Homo sapiens: one gene and its partner. The protein of the gene in region 2 interacts with the protein of the main gene of each other region in a pairwise test. Each region holds a gene or a part of one and is shown on either strand. Other genes may lie near its edges.

Region 1 (7,028 bases), on a different chromosome or scaffold from region 2:
ATATCGGGGCTCTTTTTAAAGGAACAACAACCAAAACCCTCATAGGAAAAGACAGGGTCCATCTTGTTAGCATACGTGTTGGTTAAGAGTGCTGCCTCTGGAACCAGGCTGTGTTCAGCTGGAACTCTGTACCTATTTTCTCATCTGTAAAATGGGAATAATAATAGTGACCATCTCAATTACAGTGAATATTAAAAGAGTTAATATATGTAAAGCAGAGCAGTGCCTGGCAATTGACAAGTGAGAACTGTGGCTACTATTATTACCGTTATTAACATACCTTCATGAGCTGGGCCCTCTTGGTGTGCAGTATTTACTTTGTAAGTCTGAGACACCTGGGAGAGCAGATTTTATTCTAACAAACCTCTCCATAGTGATAAACATCTTCACCAAAAGGCTAATGTTTAATGGTAATGTTTTAAAAATGGCTGCATCATTTTGCATAAGTAAACCAGCCATTTATAGTTTCTGTCGTGGATGCTTAAATACTTTACCCAGCAGAAAATGGAAATAAGTTAGATACTGATCTGTTGTTTCTTGCTTTTATTTTCCAGGACTCAGAAGGGGTAGAAATTATGTTAGGAGTTTGTGCAAGTGGTCTGTTGATATATCGCGACCGGCTGCGAATAAACAGATTTGCCTGGCCCAAGGTTCTAAAGATTTCATACAAACGGAACAACTTTTACATTAAGATCCGGCCGGGAGAGGTAAGTATACCCACATTTGCCTGTGCGTTGGGAGGAAAGATCCCTGATAGCAAGCAAGCATTTAAATTATCTGCTTATGAGTTCTGAGCATTGTGGGACACAGTGAATGACATCTAAGTGCCTGAGAGAGTTTATTGTAGGTTTGCCCAATAAACAGTAATAAATATTCTCTTCTTTATTATATTGTTCCAATATTTCCTACTGCATACGTTAATTGGAGGGTTTTTAAAAACATATTTTAATATAAAATCCAGTCTCGGCCGGGTGCGGTGGCTCACGCCTATAATCCCAGCACTTTGGGAGGCCGGGGGCGGGGTGGGGGCGTGGATCACAAGGTCAGGAGATCGAGACCATCCTGGCTAACACGGTGAAATGCCATCTCTACTAAATATACAAAAAATTAGCCGGGCGTAGTGGCAGGTGCCTATATTCCCAGCTACTCGGGAGGCTGAGGCAGGAGAATGGCGTGAACCCAGGGGGCGGAGCTTGCAGTGAGCCGAGATCGTGCCACTGCACTCCAGCCTGAGCAACAGAGCGAGACTCCGTCTCAAAAAAAAAAAAATTCCAGTATCATTAATAATTTTGTGTATATTTCAAGCAGTAATGGATAAATCTCTTCCTCCACATGCTGTTGTTATTTCTCCATGCTCTTTCTGTTTGTCCTGCAAATCTGGTTGTACTTTAAAGTGAACAGTTTAGAGGTCCTGTACTTCAAGGTACAAGGAATATTAGAACAAAGGACAATTAGTGTGAATTATATCAATGTTCTATAGCTCAATATATGTTTGTTTGTTTGTTTGTTTGTTTTAAGTCAGAGAAGCTAATGAGACAATCAGAATTGTTAACTAGTCCTTACTCCTTGGACAACAGCCTCCATGATCAACTTACGTTTATATCTTCCTTAGTGGTTTGTACATAATAGTAACACATATCTACTCTTATTTACTTAAGAGATAGTTAATAAATACCTCAAATTTCTAATTGGTATGGTTAGTATAACAGAGGCAGTCAAAGCTCAAAGATTCTAGCATACTTATATCTCTGAACATTTTCTGATATGATATAGAATTATCTCTTATCTTCAAAATCTACTTCTCTACTGGAGTTTCTTGGTGGAAAATGCAATTTAAAAAATCAGAATATCGGCTGGGCATGGTGTCTCATGCCTGTAATCCCAGAACTTTGGGAGGCCAAGGGTGGGAGAATCACCTGGGCCCAAGGATTTAAGGCTGCAGTGAGTTTGATCACACCACTGTACCCCAGCCTGGGTGACAGAGCAAAGACCCTGTCTCAAAAATAACAAAAAAATTGAAACATAAAGCATGTAATGATGTTTAGTATGAACATAACATCATACCTATCTATGATAACTGAAATAATCTGTAAGCTTTTCATGTAAATAACTAAAATTATAGTGTTTTAAAAATATTTCCTAAAGATTGTATATTAAACTTATAGCCAATAGATAGTCATTTGACTTCATTGAACATTTGTTAAGTGAGCACCTATTTATTGTCAGACATTAGAAATCTAAAGACAAATATGACCTTGTTCCTTGTTAAGGGATTTTCTATTTAGCAGAAAAACGGACTCATATACTTTGATTGTAACAGCATGATGCAAATGAGATGATATTCTGTAGACATGGAGTGAGCATAGTATTGTGAGATGCCAGAGGGGAGAGCTAGAGAAATGAATCAGTGGACAACTAGTAAGTCATGGGAGGTTTTAAATCAGGATGTGACACAACTAGGTGAATATTTTGGAATGATACATTTCTTAATGAAATTCAACGACTTAGAAACATGATGTGATAAGACCTAAACTAGGGCAGAGGCTGTGGGAATAGACGGGAGGGAACAAATGCAAGAGAGAGGTTTCAGAGGCAGAAGCAGCAGGTCGTAGAGACAGGATAGAGGAAGTAATTAAAAGAGGGAAAAGTCCAGGATAATCAAAGGTTTTCAGTTTGCATGATTGAAGCCAATGGAGATGACATTCGGCAGGAGGGAAAAGGGGGAAAATTTCAGAAAAACAACTGAAATCCCTTTGAAACAGATTTTCAGGGAGTAACTCTTGCATAGGAAGGAGTTGAACAGAGTTATCAACTGTATATATTTTATTCAAGGCCTTAGACATGGAATAAATTACTCAAAGAGCAAGGCAAGTTAGAGAAAGAAAAGGCCCAAAACTAGAACTCTGGATAATACCACTATTTGAGAAAGGGCCAAGGAGCTGAAGAAATGACAGCCAGAGAAATAAAAGAAGAAACAGGCTGATGGATGACCAGGAGATGAGTTTCAGAGGAAAGTGGTTAGCTAGCAGTATCATATGTTACAGAAAGGGCACGCAGGATGTGGACTAACAAAAGTGTGTTGAACTTAACAGTCAGGCCCCATGATGACATTTCAGAGTTCAGAAGGGCAACAGGAGCACCTGCCAGGTGTGTTGAGGTCAGGAGTAGGTAGCAGAGGCAGCAGGTCGTGGCTTCTGCTTCCTAAAGTTTAGCAGTGAGGAGTGAGATGGGGTTGTGGTGCTGGCATAAGCAGGCTCAGAGAGAGCTGGTTTTTCACTCCTCTTCTCTCTGCTTTTACAATCCTATTTACAGCCTGAGAAAAGTGAGTGAGAAGAAATTGGAGACACACAGACTCTGAAGAAGTTGAAAGAAATTGATATAAAACACAGAGAAATAGATATTAATAAACTATTAATACCTATTCAGGTAGTCTAGGAGCCTGCATCATCCTTGCCTACAGAGGTTGGCAGAGACTCTTCCCAGCTTCTTGCAGCAGAGTGCAAGCTGACTCTTCCATATAACCCCTGGCATTGGCGTAATATGTGCATATTAGTTGCAGGATGAATAAATGGATGATGATTTAGTCACAAGCCACACTATGTCTGTCTTGGCTGAGTCCCTTAGACAGTAGTGATTTTTACAAACACCACTGCACATGAACATCCAGAGTGAATAAGAAGTTGGGAAAGGCAATTGCGGTTGAAGCATTTGTGATGTGTTTCCCACTTCCCCTAATCATCCTCAACAAACAAGAAATAGAGGTCAAACATGATTGTATCTCACATGCCATGCATATGACCCCTCACCTCGGTTCTTTGCCATATAAATGATTTTTGCTATTGATTATAGCAGTAGTACCCATTGTGTGCTCTTTGGGGAAGCCTTTACTGTTTAAGATGATTGCCCTCTGGTGGTCTGATGTGTACCTTCTTCAGAATGTGAAAACCTGTGCATCTGCAGTAATAAAGTATATTATGCAGGAAATGAGATGAGTATTTCACCTCGAAAAATCAAATGGCTGATAAGGCATCATCTGAAGTGTACATGCTGAAAAATATGAAAATATGTTCCCCCAATCTCTGATCTTACGTATGATATAGAGAGACGTTAGCATTTAACACGATAATCCATAGCGGAACACACAAATAAAATCAGCAATCTCTGACACCAAGTTATCAACTACCTAAGAAATACACATATTTCCTGCCCAGGTATTAGGAGAAAAGTCTCATTTCTAAGAATGCTGTAGACTATATTTGTAAACATTTTGTTCATTTCTGTACCTTGCAGTTGAAGTCATTGTGTCATTGAGAAACCATGAAAATAAAAGTTTAAAAGTGATATCAGGGCAAATTGATTTCTGGAAGAAATCAAAAAAACCCCTTTTCGTGTTTGGTTTTCAGTTGTATCATAAGATACACACTTATTCAGAAGACATTTTACTGTATGCATAAAGTGGCTATTTATACCTGCAGCATTTTAAAGACACATTTTTGAAATTAACAAATGAATCTGTATAGCATGAATTATGCATATAGCAATTGATCTAGTAAGTAAATTTTTAAAATTCTGGTGGCATCATGATTCTGTAATTTATTTACAGGGCTTCTGTTATTTATAATTTTAAACTTTACTCTTCAATGTATTTTTTTTTATTTAGTTTGAACAATTTGAAAGCACCATTGGGTTTAAGCTGCCAAACCATCGAGCTGCCAAGCGTTTATGGAAAGTATGTGTTGAGCATCATACATTTTTCAGGTAGGAAGAGATTATTTTGTTTTTTCCCTAAGGAATAATTATAATCACTTATACTGAAAAAGATTGTCAATAAAAAATATGGAATTTTATTCTTTCTATCCCTTCAAGTTCATTGTCACCATATTTCTTGATAAGAAATCCTAAGAGAACTAGAAAAAGACTAAATTTGAAGGATTTTCCCTAATTTGTCATGTACTTACATGTCCCAAACCCCCCTTCTTTAGTATCTTTAGTGTGTTTACATTATTTTTAGGGTGTCCACTTCAAATATCCAATCCATTCCTTACTATTTCAATTCCTTACTATTTCAGTGATTTCTCAATACCCTGAATCCCTTTACCTACCTATGCATGGTACGAGACCCATCAAATTAGGCACCCAACACCAAATTGTCACTCTTCTTCTTCACTAATATCAAACTATTTAGTAGCTGTTTGGGCTTATAGAACCATAGACTGTCCACTTTGCGTGGAATGTTAAAAATTCATCTAGTTCAGTACAACCCTCATTTGCATATATCCTCTCTACAATATCCCTAGTTGATATATACTATATGCATTCTTTTATGAAATCAGATTTATTTAACTGCAAGTTGTGCGTTAAATGTTTAGCATGCAAAACACATGACCTCTCAGAGTAAAAAGTTTAAAAAGCACTCTCAATATTGGACTTAATAGTCTTTCTGCTGTTTTTCTTTATTCTCTTTAGACTACTGTTACCAGAAGCACCTCCCAAGAAATTCCTAACCTTGGGTTCCAAGTTTCGTTATAGTGGCAGGACACAAGCGCAAACGAGAAGAGCCAGTGCGTTGATAGATCGCCCAGCACCTTACTTTGAACGCTCATCCAGCAAACGTTATACCATGTCTCGCAGCTTGGATGGAGGTAGGCATCGCTTACTGGCCCTTAATAACCTAGTACCTACCCCAAAAAGAATGTGAAACTGTCATGAGCTTTCAGTAAGTATAGATATTCCTGGATATTGTATGTTGAAAAGCAGTTGTTGCTTATTGACTGAATGGCACATTTTTAAGTCTCCCCCAGCGAAATGAAAGTCCCTTTGTCAGTCTAACATCTGCAGGTTTATGTAAAATTACATAAAAGAATGGCACTTCGGGAATGAAGAAAATAGCTTTCATAAGCTGACACCCTGAATTTGGAGAAAGATGCTCTCATTCTAAATATAGTAGTCACATACTCTGTGATTTGATTCTCTTGCCAACAGGTCTTAAAGGATTGGTAGGTTTAAGACCATTTGTTTTATAAATCTATAAGTTAAATTTATTTCTGTTTCTAAAAAATCTTTATGAATAAAGTGTGACCTTTATCAGTCAGTTGATAATAGCTGGTAGAAAGGATGACATTCAAATAACAGAGCACAGGGTTGTAAGTTAAATTCTCCTAGTTGTGCTAATTACTACCCCAGATGGACTGGGAGAACAGTGCTAGGTAGGGGTTCTGTACTGCCAAGTTAAATTAGTCAAATGGAGAGATGATCATTCAAACTACCTTTTTAGGGGATAACACAACAGTGAATTTTTAGTAGGGTTTTGTTTTATCGAACAGTTTCTTGATTGCTCTCTGAAGTAATATGGAGGTACACTTTCTGCTGCAAGGCGTGCCCGCTGTAACAATACTCTGGAACTGAATCATGTCTAGGTCTCTGTCTTCTCATTTGGAGCACCTGGAGATTTGTTGTTTTTAATAGAAGATCTTATCCTGTGCAAATAAAAAGAATTAGGAGTTTCTGGTATGCAAGTATGGTTTAAATAATAAGGAAAAACATAAATAAAAATAAACAAAAGTTACAAGTGCATGGTACCATCTCCTTTCCTACCTTTTTTGCCACTGTTCCCCTGAGAGTCTCAGCTCTGCCTTCCCCATTTCACTAGCCGGGTGATTGATGGGGAGAGGTGCTCCTTGAATCTCCCAACTAAAAACAACTGTCTTTTTCTAATGGAATACTTTATGAACAGTTTATAGAAGAAATCAAAATGGCATTATTAGTGCTATATTATGTATGTTACTAGCGAGGTGGAAACTGTACTCTTGTGGCATGGGTAAATCCAGATTGAAGTCCAGGCTCTGCTGCCCTCTGTCTCTGCGGTGGTTGACAAATGATTTCAGCTCTCCAGGTCTGTTTTAGTCATCTGTATAATAGGAATAAGGCCGCCTTTGACGGGGCTGTTGTGAAAAGCAAGATATATGTGAAAGCACTCTTGTTACATAGGTAATTATCTCAATAATCATATTGATAATTACTCTTTTTTC
Region 2 (8,023 bases):
AAGACTTTAAGAAATGATTTCAGACATAAAGGGAAACCTGATCAACTTAATGTGGTTAAAAATATATATAGTAAAAAGGTAATACATATTTTAAATGAGACTTAAAATAAAAGCTAATACCTTAACTTATTAATCACCACTCATTATCACTGCTACCAGAGACTTTAGTATAATATTCAGAACAACAAAAGAGACTTCTTTAAAAAAAAAAAATAGCAAGATAGTAAATCCAAAAGCCATAAAGAAAAATGTGATGGAAACCTAACCACAAAAAATAAAATTTTGTTTAAGGCAAAAGACATCATTAACGAGTCAAATATTATATATGAAAAAATACATCAATAACAAAGTCAAGAAAAATAAGAATAAAAAAAATTTGCAAAGCACCTGACAAAGTCCCAATATAAAATTATTACAAAGAAATGAGAAAAAGACAATCCAATATAAAATTGGGCGACTGACATGACAATTTATTTTAAAAAGTGTAAATCAATTAGTTTGAAAAGATGCTTAAGCTCGTGATGTTTCAAAGAAGTGTCATTTAAACAATATGCCATTTTCAACCACTAGATTGAAAAAACAAACAAACAAAAAAAAAACTTGTTATCACCCAGTGGTGACTATTTTGTATTTTGTATGGCTCATGAGTTGCTGGTGAAAATATCAACTGCTAAACCATCTTGAAAACTATCAATATTAATATATTGAAAATTAACATTTACACTAGTAAAATTATTTTGAATTAATTTGTCAATACTATGCCACTAGTAAAAATACTGAAAATTTTCTATATCTATTGACTCAAGGCTGACCACTTGAGAAATCAAGATGCAGATTAAGTATACAGTATGTTTTGGTTTTCTTCTTCAATAGCAGTCTGGTAGACTTTCTTCCTAGATAACTTTTTCTGAACCCTTAACAAGACTATAAAAAGTATGTCTTGTTGTTACACTCAGATGGATGCTCTGACCCAGCATTCCTTTTGTTGTCCCCGGTTGTTTTCTCTGCCCTCCTTGCAACAAAAGCAATGGGTATTTGGACAAAAGATTACAAAGCAAAAGTAGCATTGTTTTTGCTTCATCTAATAAACTATAAGCACCCTGAAGGCAGAATTAAAATGTATCTGCCTGCTTGCACATGGTGGGTACATAACAAATATTTGTTGACTGAATATGATATAGGCATGTTACCTTATACGAATTCATTACTTCAATAAAATTTTATTGAATACCCACTGTGTTCCAGATCATATCCTAGATGCACCTAAGACATGGTACCAGCCATGAGGAGCTCACTGTCTCTGCTCACCCTCTCTTAGATAGAGCCACTGATATAAACAGTTACAATAACATATTGTAATAAATTCCGTAGTAGATGAAAGTACAAAGCACAAATTACTTTTCCTAAGAAGAAAGGATAGTTTAGAGAAGTTTTACAGAAAAAAAAGAGCTTTTAGATTAGAAATAAATCTTAAAGGACACAATATGGCTATAAGTGGTTCTAAGAATGAGGGCACTCATTCAGACAACCTGGGCTCAATTCTGGCTCTTCTATTTATCAGCAGTGCAATCTTGAGCAAACTGTTTCTGCTTCTACGTTAAAGAAATGGGGGTAAAAATAATACCTACTTCAAAGATTGATTCTGAGGATTCACAAGATACTACATGTAAAGTAATTAGCACTATGTACCAATCAATACATTGTAGTTTTATTACTATTATGACATTATTACTGATGAATAGGAGTCTGCCAGCTACCGAAGAGGTTTAGGGAATAAAGAGGATTCCGCATATCTGAGAAAAGGTGAATGTGCAGCCTATGAGAAATGTCACTTCTAATAATGCAACCTCCTATGGAACAAAAATGCCACCCTCCTTCAAGATGCCCTCCCAAGCCTGTTCCCCCATGGAGCTGGCCACTCCTTTGCACTTTCAGACTGTATTTCTTATGCTTTTCTTATGGCTTCAACTTCAGCTTCTCTTTAGTTGAGTGCATTCACCTGTCTAGGGAGTGCATGTTCATTGTCACGCACTATGAAGGTATAAGGTGATAATAGGCTTAAATCAGACTCAAGTTCATGACTACGATATAGGAAGGGTTATAAACCCCCACAAAAGGGGTTTCTAAGAACTGCACTTGGAGTTGGGAAATTCTACTTACTTGCTGACATAACTCGCCTTCTAGAATGGAAATAGCCAGAGCACATAGCCCGGTTTAGACTTGCAACACCTGGTGGAGACACCTTATTCATTCATTCGACAATTTACCAAGCACTGTTCAAGATTACAAAGTTTAACAGGACACGATGAAGGGAAAGAAAATAGACATATAAACAAATGATCACAACATCTTGTGATCAGTGCTAATAACAGCACTTTGGACAAATTGATTCAAGTTGCCCAGAGGGCGGAGCGAGTAATGCTAATACACAATAAGCATCCACAGGCTGAGCGAATGACCTTGAGGAACTGTTTGGCGTCAGCTACGGCACTACAAACATGACCAAAGCCGCACGGGGCCCAGGATGCCCGGGGCTACTGGCTTCGGGTGCCAGCGTCACTTGTACTCGGTCAACACACGTGCACAGAGCACCTACTGTGAGCCAGGCGTGACGCCAGGGTGACCAAGGCGGGGTCCGCAGAGTAGGGTCTCAGGGCGACCCCAGCAGCCTGGAAACGAGGCGGGCTTCCCATATGTCACTTCTAAGTAGGATATTGGAGGAATGAAGAGGTCTAAATGACACGTTAAGGTAAAAGCTGAGCCCGCAACATGCGGGCAGTCCACCACCGCGGGATTTGGGGAGGGGGCAGGTCAGCCCCCCCAGGAACCCTCAGCCAGCATCCCGAGGACCCCGCAACTCCTCTAACCCCAGGTCCAAGCTCACCCGTGAATCAGAACTTACCGGAGGCCACGGAGGCTGTTACCGCGAGGAAACTCTAGTCCTGGCGGAAGACCAACTTCTAGCAGATCCCCTTACCCTGGCTCTAGTCCACTAGCTCCTTCCTAGTCACAACCGAACTCACGGGGCGGAGGCCCTTAAGGAGCACTCGCATCCTTCAATCGCCGACTAGAAGCTCGCCCGGTGGGCGGAGCCGTGCCAGCTCAGGGCAGAGCGAGGAGGCAGAAGTCTCCGCCTTCCTCAAGCTTGGTTGAGAAGTCCACCTGCAGTTGCAAAGTACGGCTGTTTGAAAGCGGGCGCCAGAGGTGGCGGGAAGCTCCCCCTGTGCGCCCATTGGTGGATTCGAGAGCCAATTACGAGGAAGTCACCCCGGAGTGGGCGGGCTGATCGGTTGCCTAGAGACGCCGAGGCGCTTCACCCGCTACCTTCGGCCAGGGTGCAGCAGTCTTACGGGGACCCCTTGCCCGTTTGGTACCGGAGACTGCAAAGGTGACTCGTGCCTCCTGCGCTTCAGCACACAGAATCCCGCAGATTCCCCACCGAACTCTTGCCTTAGAGGTTTTTTACATTTGCCCTTGTTTTCTAAGGCGCCTGCTTCCCCATTATTTAACAGCCTTAGATATTTTGCTTTGTCTTCTACCTTACTAGGTGCCGCTTTGTTTACATTTTTGCTTCTTTAATTACTGATAAGATGGCACATTTTTCCACGTGTCTATTTACTACTCTAATTTCCTCGGGTGTGAGTGTTCTTGTCACTTAGGTGTATATTATTAACCTGCCCCTAAAGACAGCGCCACCCAGTCCTCAGTAAAGCCCAGTACTGTGTCTATCTTCTCTGGCTGAAAGGGTTCCAGTGAATAATCAAGGAATTGGTGGCGGCAGGTTCACATATCCTTTCAACCCTTTCCCATGTGTACTGGCACGGAGTAAAATGGTTGTTCGAGGCTCTTCATACTGTGGCTGGTTTTCCTTTGCTACTTCACCGTCCGCCCCCATGATGCCTACACTGACCCCTGTAACCCCATAAACTGGTATAGGGTTTGGCAAACAACAGGTAATTTAACCCACTGTAATAGAATGAACGAAATCACAGCCTGAGCTAACAATGGTTCCCAGAGCGCTTTTTTTCTTTCACCTGCTGTGAAAGCTGTTTCTTTCACCTGCATCGCCTCTACCTTCTCCTGCTACTTAGTTTTGAAGACAGACTAGCACCTCCTTTGAAGCCTTTCATGACACACACTCCCTCACTTCGCAAAAATGATCTTTCCTACCTCTGTACACAGTGTATCCTATATATCCTATTATAGTTCTTTTATCTACTGTAAGTTTTTGTGTGTCTTACACTCAGTACAACGTGAATATCTTGAAGTACTCACTTTACTTCTTGGGTGTCTAACATGACCCTGGTAGGCACTCAAAACAATTATGTTAAATGAGTAAATGAATAAATGAACAAATAGATGAAGATTTTGGCAGGGGGGCAGGCAGAAAAAGCAAATAAAAGGCCTTCAAGTAAATGGCATTTGTTGAATCTGAGCCAAGGCATCTTAGTGAGAATTAAATGCACTTTTCACTTTTCACATCCCACTGAAGTCGATTGGCAAACTGTATGTTGCATTCTGTGCTGAGGGTTATGATGGAGTGCTGCAGCAAGAATGCCAGGTGATCCCCATGCACAAACAACTGCTTCTTAGAAGGATGAAAGCATAAAACGTGTCAGGGTAAGCACATGAGGAGGCAGTGTTTATAATCCATTACACAGTGCTTTACAGATTGGTAAATTCTTTCACAAGCATCATCTCATTTGGTTCTCACTACAACACTGTGGGGGGTTAGGACAGGTATTCCTACCCATTTTCCAGTTGAAGAAACTTACATAAAAATAAATTAAATGACTTGTCCAAGGCTACACAGCTAATACAAGGCAGACAGAATCTGAAACCAGGTCCTTTATCTCCAAACCCAGAGCTCATCACTACATACAAAATATTTTAGTGAGACTAGCATATACGTGACAAAGAGGGAAAATAAAGAATAAATCAACCTCCCATCCTGCCATGCCTCTAAAAATGGTTTTTGGTGGAGTTATGGATATATTCAACTAAATTTCTTTGACCACCTATCCTGTTTAAGTCCTGGCCTAGGTGCAGGGTAGGACCCCTATGCTCAAGGTACCAACACTCTGAGTTACAAGATGCTTACGTAGAAAGATAAATAATAATAAAAATTGTTTACTAAGTGTAATAAGAGTAGAATAGGCAATAATTCTAGGGAAAGTGAACACCTAAAGATGAATCTATCAAGGCAGGTTCAAGGAAGAAGAGAAGGAGAGAGCTCAACAGGTCAGTTGATTAGCATGAGTGCAATTTAAAGGCCAGACCAGCAAAAGTGCAGGAATCTTACATTTAGATGTAAGTCTGGAGAAGAAGGCAGGAAGGAGGTGGTCCATAGAAGAGCTTTAAGCCTGGGAGAATAGGAAGGGCATTCTACAGAGGTCAGGTAATGGTGTGCACAAGGAATGAATCTAACATCCAAAGAAACACAAGCAGACAGAGGCATTCTGGGATAAGAAAGGCAAGTGTGGGAGAAGAAAGTAAAACTGCCAAAGATCTCAAATGCTGGACAAAAGATTATTTGTGAAACGTTGGCTCGATGTTTACCTTGCATGTTTTAAATGGGCACACCTATGAGCTGGGTGAGACATTTCAAGAGAAAATGTCACATTGTTGATGAGATGGGGTCCCTCCCACTAACAAGCATTTATAAAGGTAAAGCTAAACCATTATTTCTCCTTTTTCCTCCTTTTTGGTGTCAAAGCTATCAGGTCAAAGCAATGTCATCACAGGAGTGCTATCCAAAGTGCTATCATCAAGGAGTACTATCTTCAAAGGAACACAGAACTTAGAGTAAGAAGATCTGAGTTCAAGTCCCAGTTCTCCTACCTACTAGCATTGTCCATAACAATTTAACACTCAAAAGCCTCAAAGTCCTTATCTGAAAATAGGGATGATAATACCCACTTCTCAGGATTGTGGCCAAAAAAAAATGAGATGAGATTGTGAGAAACAGCTTTTAAATGTAAAAACATTATTTTCCATTGTGTTTCTATGTACTATGGCTTATTGGATTAGAGTACACACTGGGGTCTGAGGTAGTAAGGAAAAACCAGGAAGGTGTTCTGGGAGTGGATGGCAGAGAAAGACAAGGGTGAATGTGTGCCGAGGGCAACAGGAGCTTATGGGATGGGACAAACAAAGAGTCTACACAAAGGATATGGCTTCATGAGAACAGGACAAAAATAGGAAGTGCTAGAGATGGAACAGGAGTACTTGGAAAGAACCAAGGAAGATCAGACCATTATTTACATCTTATTCAACAGTATTTTGGGAACACCTACTTTGTGCCAAACACTGTGCTGGGATCATTTAATATTGACATGTGGATCAAAATGCCCACTCTGCTCAAGTCCCTTCTCACAGAATCTGCTCCTGCTCACAGTCATTATGACCTCACCACCATCACCATCCTACCACCCACGGTCCTGGCCAGACTTGACTGAATCAAAGGGGAACACTAGACCCAAGCTGGGCCAATCGTATTCCCTTCCCAGATAACTAAGATTCCACAAAACTGAGCAAGGTGGTAGCCATACAGAGGAGAAGCAGACTTTTATTACACTTGCCTGTATTTTATGGGAAATATGCTTCCTCCATAACTGTGTCATATACATGGTAGACCCTAGACTGAAGATCATGAACTTTTGCCACTGAAAGCCATGTATCTGTCTGGTTCCTGTACTTTGAAAAGCCAGACAGTTTAGCTTTTCCTTGCATTCTGTGATAACTAAACCTTAAAAACTTTTTGACTTGAGCTGGCTTGGGTCATTGTAGAGGTTGAATCATGTTCCCTAAAATTTCATGTCCACCTAGAACTTCAGAATGTGACTTTATTTGGAAATATGGTTTTTGCTGATACAATTGTTTAATATGAGCTCATTCGGGATTAAACTTAGGTAAAGCTAAACCATCATTTCTCCCTTTTCCTCTTTTTTGGTGTCAAAGCTATCAGGTTAAAGCAATGTCATCACAGAAGTGCTATGCAAAGTGCTATCAGCCTTAAGTCTAATGACTGGTGTCTTCATAAGAAGAGAGGACACAAAGAGACACATAGGGAGAAGACAGCCATGTGAGGGTAAAGGTGGTGATTGGGGTTAGATTGCCATAGGCCAAGGAACGTCTGGGGCCACCAGATGCTGGAAGAGACAAGAAAGGATTTTTCCCTAGAGCCTTTGGAGGGAGCATGGCCCTACCACATCTTGATTTCAGACTTCTATCTTCCAGAACTGTGAGAGAATAAACTTCTGTTGTTTGCGGTATTGGTTACAGTAGCCCTAAGAAGTTAATAAAGGTAGGTTTACATTCTTGGCAACCAAACATTCATGACTAAGATACATTTTTAGTGATTATATTTGAAAAGTCTAGACCAGTGATACTCCAAATAGGGCCATGGTCCACTGGTATACCTCATTTGTATTAAATGATACAAATGCCCAAGGCATTTCTTCAATTATCATAGGAAAATAATTTGTAGATTTTTATTTTTACATACAATTAGAAATCCACCAAGTAAGATATAGGAAGTTACTAATGTTAAGAATTTGTAAATTAAAATGAGTGCATTTTTCGGGTTTATCAAGAATGATCATCATTTGGATGTGCAATATTACAAAGCTCTTGCTCATGCACAGTTGAAGGTAATTGGAATTCCCAGTTTTGGAAGGAGGATGTTAATAGCACCATTCCCCCAGGAAGTCATGGTCTTTACGAGCTGTTATTACTGTTTATTTATTAACTATGTTTGGCTTCATCAATATCAAGTAAGCTTATTGTGAGTTGTTTGATTAAACCAACTCTATGTAGTGTTAACTACTTTAAATATTTTCACTTTTTCTATAGCGACTTTAAAATAATATACATTTGGGTGGGGCGCCATGGCTCATGTCTGTAATCCCAGCACTTTGGGAGGCTAAGCCCGGCAGATCACCTGAGGTCAGGAGTTTGAGACCAACCCAGGCAACATGGCGAAACCCCGTCTCTACCAAAAATATAAAAATTAGCAAGGCGT

Evidence for each region. The genes of interacting proteins can lie anywhere in the genome.
Region 1: the proteins of CEP152 (region 2) and EPB41L3 interact in a two-hybrid assay, tested with the Homo sapiens proteins (one study listed by BioGRID and IntAct).

Annotation. Positions count from the first base shown.
Region 1 is NC_000018.10:5,421,992-5,429,019, reverse strand, and holds part of EPB41L3 (band 4.1-like protein 3), read left to right. Parts: intron 1-554; coding exon 555-707; intron 708-4,660; coding exon 4,661-4,758; intron 4,759-5,466; coding exon 5,467-5,642; intron 5,643-7,028. UniProt on the Homo sapiens protein: Tumor suppressor that inhibits cell proliferation and promotes apoptosis. Modulates the activity of protein arginine N-methyltransferases, including PRMT3 and PRMT5.
Region 2 is NC_000015.10:48,808,059-48,816,081, forward strand, and holds the start of CEP152 (centrosomal protein of 152 kDa), read right to left. Parts: upstream 3,012-8,023; 5' UTR 2,903-3,011; exon of another isoform or gene 2,873-2,902; intron 2,750-2,872; exon of another isoform or gene 2,640-2,749; intron 2,537-2,639; exon of another isoform or gene 2,161-2,536; intron 1-2,160. UniProt on the Homo sapiens protein: Necessary for centrosome duplication; the function also seems to involve CEP63, CDK5RAP2 and WDR62 through a stepwise assembled complex at the centrosome that recruits CDK2 required for centriole duplication.